3 separate regions of the Homo sapiens genome follow, and regions 1 and 3 are each reported to be linked to region 2. The links are microRNA targets in miRTarBase. Many come from high-throughput screens and were not tested one by one. Region 2 holds a microRNA gene; each other region holds the end of a gene's coding sequence.

What was found. The annotated mature microRNA hsa-miR-589-5p reads UGAGAACCACGUCUGCUCUGAG and lies in region 2 at 1,717-1,738, shown strand. An mRNA with a match to its seed (bases 2 to 7 or 8) in the 3' UTR can be bound and repressed. Matches are read on the target gene's strand: a 7mer-m8 pairs with bases 2 to 8, a 7mer-A1 pairs with bases 2 to 7 and ends in A, and an 8mer does both.
Region 1: miRTarBase lists IPPK as a target of hsa-miR-589-5p. Seed matches in the 3' UTR shown: 7mer-m8 at 2,694-2,700.
Region 3: miRTarBase lists MAP3K8 as a target of hsa-miR-589-5p. Seed matches in the 3' UTR shown: 8mer at 3,394-3,401.

What each region holds. Positions count from the first base shown.
Region 1 is chr9:92,612,130-92,616,299 of GRCh38, forward strand. It overlaps IPPK (inositol-pentakisphosphate 2-kinase), which reads right to left. Exons shown (of 13, transcript NM_022755.6): 13 at 1,054-3,928. The coding sequence ends at 3,703. CENPP (centromere protein P) reads left to right here. Exons shown (of 8, transcript NM_001012267.3): 7 at 394-485; 8 at 890-4,170. The coding sequence ends at 1,020. Among named protein-coding and RNA genes, the nearest start is that of IPPK, 56 kb to the right of the region's middle.
Region 2 is chr7:5,493,402-5,497,610 of GRCh38, reverse strand. It overlaps MIR589 (microRNA 589), which reads left to right and starts at 1,694; the gene lies at 1,694-1,792. All of the region lies in intron 3 of FBXL18 (F-box and leucine rich repeat protein 18), which reads left to right. RefSeq lists enhancers at 2,351-2,400, 2,471-2,550.
Region 3 is chr10:30,460,226-30,464,434 of GRCh38, reverse strand. It overlaps MAP3K8 (mitogen-activated protein kinase kinase kinase 8), which reads right to left. Exons shown (of 9, transcript NM_005204.4): 9 at 2,602-3,729. The coding sequence ends at 3,599. Among named protein-coding and RNA genes, the nearest start is that of MAP3K8, 28 kb to the right of the region's middle.

The sequences.
Region 1 (4,170 bases), not on the chromosome of region 2:
TAAGCTTCTCCTGGGCTCAACTGCCTAGAAATGAAATTCCTGTGTCATGCATGGATGCATGTTCAGCTTACTGTCAGTGCCAGATTATTTCCAAAGTGGCTTGTCCATGTCTGCTCCCACCAGTAATTTTGAAGTTTCTGTTGCTCCATGTTCTGTACTTCGCTGGTATTGGCCTACTAATGTTTGCCAATGCAGTGGGGACAGAGCAGCACCTTCCTGTGATCCTGGTTCCATTTGCCTGTGCTACTGACTGTGCCTCTTCTTGGCTGTGGATTGGGGTTTCTAGCAGGGGAGCCCAGCATGGGGAAATGGAGACCAGGTGCGACTCATGGTTGCTAATCTTTTCGCCAGATTTCAAAAAGCACATAACGACATGTTTTACTGCTTTTTCAGGTTTGAATTAGTCATTGTTTGGAGGATACAAATAGATGAAGATGGGAAGGTTTTTCCAAAGCTGGATCTTCTCACCAAAGTCCCACAGCGAGGTAGGGCCCTGGGTGTGGCTGCTCTAGGTGACTTCTCAACATGCCCAGCAAAGCCGCCTGCCTGTTTCCTCTGGGTTTCAAAGGGCAAGAATCAAAAATTGGAAATCTCATTAATGTACTTTGTCTATCAATTTTTAAATATTTTTATCAATAATCACTCAAAAAGAACATGAAAAGGGATTGCTGCCCCAAGGCCCTCCCAGGCTGAATGCACAGGGAATATGCCTCCAGCCGTAGGTGAGGCCTCCACTCACTCCATCTCCTCGCCCGCCACTAGCATGTCCCATCCCATGCAGCTAGTCGGGAGGAGTGCGGGGTCTTGGTGAGGTCCATGCCAGCAGAAAACAAAAGACCAAAAGCTGCCACCTTGAAGTTTCTTACCCGGTTTAATGTTTTCTTTATAGCCCTGGAGCTGGACAAGAACAGAGCCATAGAAACTGCTCCTCTCAGCTTCCGAACCCTGGTAGGACTGCTTGGAATCGAAGCTGCTCTGGAAAGCCTGATAAAATCGCTTTGTGCAGAGGAGAACAACTAGTTCCAAAACAGTGAACGTGGAGGATGAAGATGCTGCGTGGAGGAACATGCAATTTTATTCAATATAAACATTTGCTATTTTCTGCTTAGAAACCACACCCTGAAGACGTGCTGTCTATGCAGTTATGGCACATTATATGGAAACTCTCATGACATGAAAAATAAATACAACTAGTTAAGTATAAAATGCCAAATAAAAGTGACACGTACAATGTGGTTTATAAAAATAAGCTTAACATCTGAGAAAATGTACCAAGTGGTTGTGTGTCCTCAGATGTGTGGGGAGGATCCATCCCCCACCCACTGCAGCCTCACACCGAGTCCACCTTGGACATGGTGGCCACATTACTCAGCTGGGAGAAGCCACCCTTATCCTGGTTCCTGCCTCCTGGGGGCTCTGGAGACGGATGCCTATGGCGCCTCATCTTTAAACTGTCCTTAGTAGCCCAGGGGAGCCACACCCTCACTCCCTGCCTCCCCCCGGTCCGCATGGTGGCACCGTGAGGCAGTCTCAGCAAGTCCTCATGCTGTTCTTGGTCTTCCACAAGAAAGTGAAGCTGTCAGCTTAATAACAAGAATGGCCTAAGACAGCAAAGACAGCACTGTTCCTGGGCTGGGACGCAAGGAATGAGGTCCTTTATGAAAGAAAGACCCCCCTGCATAGCCTAAGTGCTATATCGATCGTCCCGGATGTGCCTTAAGAACCGTGACCTCATCAGTCGCCCATTTAGCATTGTTAAGATCTGTGAACGCGTGTTGTCTCAAACCAGTCAGGGCCGTCATGACTACGCAGCAGCAGCAGTTTCCAAGACGGGCCAGAAACGCATCCACAGCAGTGGCACCCGCGGCTCAGGGGCTCCTCACAGCCCGGGCTGGTGGGAGCCAAGACCAGACAGAGTGGGGGTCTCCATCTGTTTTCTCTTCTCCCTCAAATACAGGCTGTTTTCATCGTGTCTAGTCCAGCCCTGTCTGGGCCCTGTGCTAGGCAATAACTCTTGCAGCCCTGAAGGACCTAGGGAGCCCAGCCCACCTTCCCACGGACTGGGGTTCCCTCACATGTGCACTTGAACCCAGGACCCAGCATCCTCCACACACCGTGACAATGGGCAAAATCATCCCAAACCAGGCTGCCCCAGCCCCAGCCCAGCAACAGTGAACTCCCTTGGGTCAAGACAGTACTCAACGGCCACTACCTCCACGCTTCCCAGAGCCTGCGGCTTGTCCGTGAGCTCCGTGCACTTCACCAAAGCCCCCATCCCAGCACACAGGACCCGTGTGTATGAGACGGTGTCATTGGAAGTGAGAAGAAAACAGTAAAAGTGTCCAGTTAGATAAGTATCTTTTTGCACCTCTGAGAGTAGAATTAGAAGTAAATATGACAGAATTGAACAATAAATTCTAGAAGAGTTGCCTTGATTCAAACAAGTATAATTCTCAAGTTATCACAAAATTTCCCACAAAAATTTACAATCAGCAAAATAGTTTCCTTATTTCTCATGTATCATTTTCATATAATTCCATGGTTTCACTAATATTATATGTTACAATAAGCCTCCATTAGTCCCTCAAAACGATGATATAAATAAGTCTGTACAACCTAGCATAGAATAAAAAACTGAAACCAAGATTCCCAACGTTTTTCATAGCAGCCGGGCACACTTTGGTGACCCCAACGAGAACCCTCTCGGCAGCAGCCAGGAGCTGTTCACCTTCCAGAAGCAGGGCCTGTGGCAGCCTAACAGGGAGAGGCCACGGGGCCCAAAAACGCAACACGTCTCAAGGCAAACCCGAGGGAGGAACTTGGTCTGGGAGGAAGAGAGAACTCGCTCCTCAACCACCCCAGACACTGGAGTGTCAGGAAAGCACTGAGCTGTTGGGGCACACTGCCCAGCCCGGCCACAGCAGCTCAGCCAGTCACAGCTCCACCTCCAACTTCTACAGCAGCAATTTTTAGTGGGAAAGAACAGCTCATCTCCCCCTCATGTGAAAGATTAAATTGTAAAGCAAAAAAAAAAAGGTCAATGCTCGCATGAGTGGTGTCCATCCTGACCTGAGCCTTGCGCTCCCTGCTGCCCTGTGTGGAACTGTGGGCTTCAGCACCTCCACAGGGACCCTGAGTCTACACTGCTCAGAATCGGCATCTGCGCGACCACGAGGTCACGCTGTGCAGCAGGGAACCACCTAAAAACCTGTGTTGATATGTGGCTTGCACTGAAAAAGTGACCATGTAACTCAGCTGGGGGAAGTTCCAGTAGTATCCATGTTTTCTTAAAAGTCCAAACTGTAAAATGTATGTGACAATTCAAGTTTTCTATGTTAGGAGTCTGGTGGTAGCAGATCCAAACCTTGGGTCTTAGAATAAGGCTTTTCGCATTAGAGAATCAGACATGAGCCCTGGTTGGGAAAGAAGAACTATCCAGAACGTCTTCCCAGGGCTTAACGGACACTTCCATTTTAAGAGTGTGAGCAGCTTCCTGGGACACAGCACTCACTTCCTACATTCCTTGTCCAGGAAGTTGTTTCTAGTGCTCTTCAATTCCATGTCTCCAAGAGGCAATCCCACCTCAAAAGGGGTTAAAAGCAAAAACATTCACAACCAAAGGTCACCCAACACAACAGAAAATATCTCTATCATTCAGCCTTCACATTATGTTCAAGTTTCAAAGACACTGCAGGGAAAGAGTTAGACCTTGTGGAGAACTAATGTGCAATCTTCGCTTTCCTTGAACCGAGTCGACATCACGGCGTTGTCTTTGGCACGTACAGTCTTTGAATAATAGTTGACGATCTTGCCGTCCAGTTTATACTGATGGGGAATGCTCTCGTAGGGCTTGAGGTCAAGGTCCAGCACAGACACGGAAAAGGCAAACCTGGACCTCGATGAAGGGACGACAGGCCTTTGATCAGAGCTGCAAGTAAAAAGTACCATTTCAGGATACACAAGCCCCCCATTCATTTCCCTCCCTCCCGTTCTCTCTCCCTTTCTTCTTTCAACTAGTATGTTTTTATGTTTTTTCTTTGACTTCTGCAAAGTTAGATAAATCAATCTCTTTTAAAAGAGAAGTGAATGGCCTCACACCCCAGCTCACAAAGAGCACTCGTTCTGTGCACCTGTGATCTGTGCGTGTGACAGCTGTCTGTGCCGGCTGTG
Region 2 (4,209 bases):
AGCAGCCGAGCTGGAGGCTCACACCCTGGAGTCCCCCGGCCATGCAGCCAGCTTGGCGCCACCCTCCCTCTCGACCTCCTCCCACTGCAGACCTGTTAGTGTTGGGTTGAGAAGCGCAGGATCAAACCCAGGACTTTCAAATGGCAGAGCAGATTGCTAGAAGCCTCTGTATTTCCTGTCTGGTGGAGTCACCAGGCCCTGGATCGGCCGCTTTGATTCTCAGCTCGAGCCACTGCGAGGCTCCGTGCGTGGGGAGCGGGGTGGTTATTCATGCTCTGACCCAGGCATCCTGGAGAACCAGGACGGGCGACTGCTTTGAGAACCAGACGGGCGACTTTTCAGAATCTCCCTGCTTTAGAAATTTGACGCAAAATGCATGTAAAATTTGGGCTTTCCCACTTTTTTTTTTTAAAAATGGTCTCATTCTGTCTCCCAGACCGGAGTGCAGTGGCATGATCACAGCTCACTGCAGCCTCGACCTTCTCTGGCTCAGGTGATCCTCCCACCTCAGCCTCCCGAGTAGCTGGGACTATAGGCACATGCGACCATGCCCGGCTAGTTTTTTTTTTTTTTTTTTTTTGAGACAGAGTCTCACTCTGTCACCCAGGCTTGAGTACAATGGCATGATCTCAGCTCACTGCAACCTCTGCCTCCTGGATTCAAGCGATTCTCCTGTCTCAGCCTCCAGAGTAGCTGGGATTACAGGTGCCCACCACCATACTCGGCTAATTTTTTTTTTGTATTTTTAGTAGAGACGGGGTTTCACCATGTTGGCCAGGCTGGTCTCGAACTCCTGACCTCAGGTGATCCGCCCACCTCGGCCTCCCAAAGTGGTGGGATTACAGGCGTAAGCCACTGTGCCCGGCCGCCTGGCTAGTTTTTTGTATTTTTTGTAGAGACGGGGTCTTGCTGTGTTGCCCGGGCTGGTCTTGAACTCCTGGGCTCAAGTGATCCTCTTGCCTGGGCCGCCCAAAGGGCTGGGATCACAGGTGTGAGCCACTGTGCCCGGTCCGGAGAGTCTGTTAAGTGTGGCCTCCTAGTTGATGGGCCTAAGCCAAGCCCTGAGTCCAGGCTGAGGTCTGGCCTGGGAGAGTTGCTTTGGCGTCCTCAGCTCATAGGTGGCCTTTAGCCACCTATGGATCCAGGTGAGCCCACGGATTGGGCTGGGGCACACGTGACAAGGATTGGCCAGGAAGAGGAAGAAGAATGTGGAAGGGAGACCGAGCAGAGGCTGTCAGCAAGGGAGGCACTGGCCGGAGGGAGGGGGTGTTCCGGAAGCAAGAGGCAGAGGTGACGGCAGCCACCGCGGGTGGAGGGGACCTTTGGGCTCATGTGACCTCTGCCAGGTGCTTTTCATGGGTGTACAGGTCTTGACCCCTTTGATATTCTCAACAACCTCTGAGTGTCGACACAGTTGTACCCACTTAATGGATGAAGAAAGTAAGGCCCAGAGAGTGCATGAACTTGCCTAGGTCACATGGCTGCTTGTCTCCGGCCTCCCGAGGTCAGCGTGATTTCATGGTCCCCGATGGCCTCCGGAGTCTGGGACGGAATCCCCGTGGCCAAGGGCCTTCCTCAGGAGCAGGGCCATGGAGAAGGCGCGGAGAGGCCTGCGGGTTCTGTGGGTTTTGTGGGTTTTGTGGGCCAGCCTGAGAGACCGACCCTGCTCATAATGCCATCTCTGTGGACAAACTCCAGCCTGTGCCCAGCAGCCCCTGAGAACCACGTCTGCTCTGAGCTGGGTACTGCCTGTTCAGAACAAATGCCGGTTCCCAGACGCTGCCAGCTGGCCCCGTTCCTCTGGATTCCTGCCTTCTGCGGCAAGGGAGCCCGGACGCTGCAGTGGAAGGAGCAGGTGGCACTCGCTTGCCCGTGGGCAGGAGCTGTGCAGAGGAAACGGCGCTGGGATCCCTGGAGGCTGGCACGATGCTCCGAGGCCGCATCCTGGGGCGGCCGGAGTCTCTTTGGTGGCAGAGCTTGGAATCCCACGCCAGCCACCTGCTGCCACTGGCAGCCCCCACACCGTGACCCCCAGCTTTGTGCTTGCTGGGGCTCCTGGCAGGGAGGGGGTGGTGCAGGAAGGAGTCGCTCTGGCTGGGACTTGGACACACCTCAGTAGTAAGGGGATTACAAATTGGGCAGAAAAGACACCTTCTTTCCCTAGACCAGCTAAGCCCTGCTTGCGGTGGAGGGCGGGGGAGCGTGTCACCCTGAGTCACCCGGGCTGCTGTGAGCGTGACCAGGGCAGCGTCTGGGCAGAAGCGGGCCATCCTTTTCAGAGCCAGGCCCCGGAGCCACCCTAGGGACACCTCGGAGGCCTGGGTGCTGCTCTCACGGCCCGTGCAGTGGGTGGCCAGATGGGAGCCCCCGCACTGTGAGCTCAGCACCTTTCATGCCCACAGAGTCACCAGGAGACCCAGGTGCCCCCTCAGGGAGCAGAATGGGGAGGCTGGATCCTCACTCAAAGGTGAGGCCCGGCGCAGTGGGAGCCTTTTCCTCGTCCCCATCCTCCCTGCAGACGCTGCCGGTCACTCGAGTCAGGTCAGCTCTGCCACCGTCCTGGGTGCCGTGCCCCAGGCGGCGTGCTGTGGGAGCCTAGGAAGCTTTAGACGTGCCAGGCCCGCTGCCTGACCAGTCACTCCCGTGGGCCTGCCACATCCTGAACACCTGTGACAGGTGACTTCCTCCGGGGCGGAAGAATGTGGATGTGGTTATCTCGTGGAAAAAAGGTTTTTTTTCCACGCTCTGCAGACTTGGTTTTTAACCCCAGAGGCTCGGGGCGATCTGGGGCGGGTAGCACGGAGCCGCATCGCCACCTAGTGACCACACGACGGCACCGTCCTTGCCCAACGCCCCGTTTCCATCTCCTGCTGTCTGGAGCCTCCTGCTTTTGCTTTGGAGAGAAATCCAGAGGTGACTTTGCAGCTCAGCAGGTGCGGCGCCTGCACCGTCTTTTTTACCCCTTCCCGTTTCCCACCTTCCGGTCTGCAAAGGGTTGTTTACTTTAGGATTTTTTTAGGGAGAGGTGGTATTTAAAATATACGTAATGAAAACATTTTATTACTATCTTTAAATAAAAACAATCTGAATAGCTTAACAAAACAAATATAGAAAAATAAAGACAATTTGGATGTTTTATTTTATTATTTATTTAATTTTATTTATTTATTTTTTTGTGTGAGACAGAGTCTCGCTCTGTCACCTAGGCTGGAGTGCAGTGGTGTGATCTCAGCTCACTGCATCCTCTGCCTCCAAGCAATTCTCCTGCCTTCGCCTCCCCAGTAGCTGGGATAATGGGCATGCCCCGCCACGCCCAGCTAATTTTTTTTTTTTTTTTTGAGATGGAGTTTCACTCTTGTTGCCCAGGCTGGAGTGCAATGGTGCCATCTTGGCTCACCGCAACCTCTGCCTCCCAGGTAGAAACGATTTTCCTGCCTCAGCCTCCCGAGTAGCTGGGATTACAGGTGTGTGCCACCACGACCAGCTAATTTTGTATTTTTAGTAGAGATGGGGTTTTTCCATGTTGGTCAGGCTGGTCTCAAACTCCCGATTTCAGGTGATCTGCCCTCTTCGGCCTCCCAAAGTGCTGGGATTACAGGCATGAGCCACCGTGCCCGGCCTGCCTGGCTAATTTTTGTATTTTTAGTAGTGACAGGGTTTTGCCATGTTGGCCAGTGTCGAACTCCTGACCTCAGGTGATCCGCCTGCCTCAGCCTCCCAAGGTGCTGGGATTATAGACGTGAGCCACCGCACCTGGCTGAGAATTTCTGCTTAAATCAATTAAAAGAAAATTAACTACCAGGCATGGTGGCTCACGCCTATAATCCTAGCACTTTGGGAGGCTGAGGCAGGAGGATTGCTTGAGCTCAGGAGTTGGAGACCAGCCTGGGCAACATAGTGAGACCCCTGTCTCCACACACACACACGCACGCACGCACGCACGCACACACACACAAAAGTAAATAACCAGTCTCTCATGAGCCACACTTCCTTTATTCTTTTAAAAAAAAAATTTTGGCCAGGTGCAGTGGCCCACGCCTGTAATCCCAGCACTTTGGGAGGCTGAGGCGGGTGGAGCAAGTGGTCAGGAGATTGAGACCATCCTGGCTAACACGGTGAAACCCCATCTCTACTAAAAATACAAAAAATTAGCTGGGTGCGGTGGCAGGCGCCTGTAGTCCCAGCTACTCGGGAGGCTGAGGCAGGAGA
Region 3 (4,209 bases), not on the chromosome of region 2:
CAGGAATTATCAAAGTGGCTGGAAGTTGCTTTCTTTGTTTTTGTTTGTTTGTTTTAGAGACAGGGTCTCACTCTGTTGCCCAGGCTGGAGTGCAATGACATGATCATAGCTCATTGCAGACTTGCAATCCTGGGCTCAAGCAATCCACCTGCCTCAGTCTTTGAAGTAGCTGGGACTGCAGGCATGAGTCATCACATCCAGCTAATTTTTGTTTTTAGAGATGAGGTCTTGTAATGTTGCCCAGGCTGAGCTTTCAGGACATGATTATTCTATTCTAACTATACTCAAGCCTGACAGCCCCACTGCCCATCTTCTCATAAGGGGGTGAGTAGTGCATTCCTTTGGAATTCACTTGGGGCTTCCTTGCTCCTCTTGAGCTGATTCTCTGGTGACTCATCCTAGGGTGCAACTTTTGGCCTCCCAGGTGAACAGTTCTGCAAGTCCTCAGTGCACACAGAGCTCTCAGCCCCGAACTTCCCCTCATAGTTCTCTCTCACGACCGCTTCCTCAGCCACCAACACTATTGATCAGCTCTTAGCAATCATCCCCATTTCTCTCCATTAGAGTTCCAATTTATTTCAAAAGAATGGTTTTCCCAGCCTGGCCAATATGGTGAAACCCCATCTCTACTGAAAATACAAAAATTAGCCTGGCATGGTGGCGGATGCCTGTAGTCCCAGCTACTCGGGAGGCTGAGGCAGGAGAATCGCTTGAACTCCAGAGGCGGAAGTTGCAGTGAGCCGAGACGGCACCACTGCACTTCAGCCTGGGCGACAGAGTGAGGCTCTATCTTAAAAAAAAAAAAGAAAAAGAAAAAAAAAAAAGAGAGAATGGTTTTCTCCAAATGGAATTTGTTAACTAGAACTCAATTCATATTGACTATGTGAGTATCTCATGAAAATTATCAAAAGCTGTATACCTTTAACCAAGAGCAGGTCCAAGTTTTGTTGGGCCTGATCTAGGGTGATATGAAATTAGGCACAGGCAGCTAAGCTATGAATACGCAAAGGCATACAGAGTGAAATAATGGGGGAGGGTGGGGCTGAGCACAGTGGCTCACACCTGTAATCCCAGCACTTTGGGAGGCCAAGGTGGGCAGATCATTTGAGGTCAGGAGTTCCAGACCAGCCTGGCCAACATGGCGAAACCCCGTCTCTACTAAAAGTACAAAAATTAGCTGGGCATGGTGGTGCATGCCTGTAATCCCAGCTACTGGGATTATCGAGGCTGAGGCATGATAATTGCTTGAACCTGGGAGACGGAGGTTGCAGTGAGCCAAGATCATGCCACCGCACTCTAGCCTGGGTGACAGAGTGAGACTCCTTCTCAAAAAAAATAAAATAAAGGGGGGGAGGTGTGTGGGGTGAAAAACTACACATTGAGTGTAACATACACTACTCAGGTGATGGGTCCATTGAAGTTTTATAATTCACCACTACATAACTCATTCATGTAACCAAAAACCCCTTCTACTCCAAAAGTCACTGAAATAAAAAATACATTAAAAAAAATCAGGCACAGGGCTATGGAGGGGCCCATGCAAGTGAGGAGCCCTGAGGCTGAAGCTTCATTAGCTTCATGGTCAGTCTGCCTCTGCCCTTACCAGAGGGGCAGAAAAGGAAATTGTTTCCTCTGCAGTGTTGATCTCTCACTTACAAGCAGCAACGTACGAGGGAGAACATGTGTACTGGAGCCAGAAAGGACTGGGTTTAAATACCAGCTGTTTCTTCACTTGCTTTGCGGTCTTGAGGATAACGTTACTTACCCTCACTATGCCTCAATTTCCTTCTCTGAGAAAAAAGAGGTAGCAATGCATATTTCATGTGTGTTTACATGGATTACAAGGGATGGCATGTTTTACACAACACATGTAAAAGTGTTTAATACTATTTGCTATGTAGATGACAGACTTCCATTCAACAGTTTTCACTAGAGTTGATGTATGTGAGTTAAAGCCACCTTCTACAATGGCTAGTTATTAGCTTGCCACATAACAATGGGCAAAGAGTATGCAAGCGTGTATTCAAGGATAGTATAAATATATAAAAACAGGGTGCAAAATAGAACCACATAACCCTAAACCAGTGGCACACAATTATTATTTTATTTTTAGCAGGGACAAGGCCTCCCTCTGTTATCCAGGCTGGAGTGTAGTGTGGCATGATCTTGGCTCACTGCAACCTTCGCCTCCCAGGCTTAAGTGATCCTCACATCTCAGCCACCTGAGTAGCTGGGACTACAGGCATGCACCATCACACCTGGCAAATTTTTGTATTTTTTGTAGAGATGGGATTTCATCATGTTGGCCAGGCTGGTCTTGAACTCTTGGGCTCAACCAGTTTTCCCGCTTCAGCATCCCAAAGTGCTGGGATTACAGGCACAACCACAATTGTTTTTTCTACCTCAATGTACCGGGGGATGCAAACCATTCCAGCTGACAATAGCTTCATACAAGAGCAATAGAAAAGGAGTGTATTAATACAATTTGCAAAGCTCCTGGTATTTTTTGCCTTCTTATGATACACATTTCCTTCCAATCTATAACTCAACTCCTATAGCCCATCCTCAGTCCCAGCTGAGAATCACAGGCTTCACAACAACTAAGGCAAAATACTGAATTTATTCAGTTGATTTGACCAACCACATTGGACAAAAGTATTGGGTTTTATTTGCATAATGTAAAAACATACTTTACATAAGACTACTCACATACTTTACAATGTTACAAATATATATATGTATGAAAGATTCATGAAGGCATTTGATATAAAACATACACAGTATGCTATTTTAATATACAAATGCTTAAAAGAAAATTTAGTCATAAGAATTACAAAATCATCAATAATTTACAAAAGTTTTCATTTTTCTTAAAGGTCACATTCTCATCCTTTGGGATGTACAAAAATTATGTGGTTTACACAGTTTTATCCACATTCAAAACATCACGTTTTGAATGTCTTCAGCATAGCATGTACAGTATAAAATGTTTCCATAGGAACACAAAAGAAACTGTCACTAGTGGCCTGCTGTCAGATGGCTTCTAATTCATCAGTTAGCCATTTTTAGGACACTAGTCCAGCTTATTGCTACAATCTTCAAGTTGTTCTAGTCACCCAAATTATAATGAATTCAATGTATACCAGAATTTACCAATAAAGGCTCAAAGAGTTATATAATATACACCAATATACACAAAACAGCTATTCTGAGTAAAATGAATATTCCATACTTAAATAAGAACCAAGAATAGTAATTTTAGGCTACTCTATTATCCTTGTGATTGGTATTTTTAAAATTTTGAGCAAAGTGCACAGTGAATGAAACAGTCAGCAGACACGATCCTTCTGTGAACTCTCAAATTCCTGCCTTAGAATCACGTCACCTGAGAAATGAGAACCTTGAGACCTGGTGCATATCAAATAGCTTCACATGTCAAACACACAGGGCCGCTTGGAGGCACATTCACGGGTCACAGGAGGTCACACTGCTCCTTCGAAAATGGCACCATTCACTGTACAGGGCCCCTGTGTAGAGGCAGCAGAACCAGCCTCCAGGAGATCAATGCTGTCTTAATTTAGAGCAAACATGGCATCCTTCAGCCATATTCAAGCGTTGGTGGTCCCCGAACAAGATTGAAGTAGCCAGCCAGAGCGCCGAGGTCGATGTAGAGAGAGCGTTGCCTCTTGAGCATCTCAGATTCCTCGGTGCTTCCTGTGCACGAAGAATCTGAAAAGGAAAACATTACAAAGTAAGTAACAAGAAAACGTGTCAAATGATAAATACCTGTTCCTTCTGCAGTGAAATAAATCTTTGGGGCCTAATAAAACAGTGTCTTAAGCGTGAAAGATGGGTCTTTGAACACTATGGCTAAGTTCACATAATATGACATAGAACAAAAAGTTCAAACAGGAGTCAATGGAGACAAGAAATTAGTTAGAAATCCTGGCATATTTTTCCAACAGCCAGATTGCTCTCTTTAAATACACAAAAGTTAGACAAGCAGCAAAGAAATATAAACAAGCGCACCAGGCTTGACATCTCGGTTTGGACCTAAATGGATTAAGAATGCCACAGACTTTTAATAAAAATGGAAATCCCTCTTTATGCATATTCAATGCTCCTGGAAAGCATACTGACTTTCCTAAGTGGGAAAAATTTACAACTGGCAAGATTTTAAGCCAAGGAAGATGGAAATGCAAGTTGACT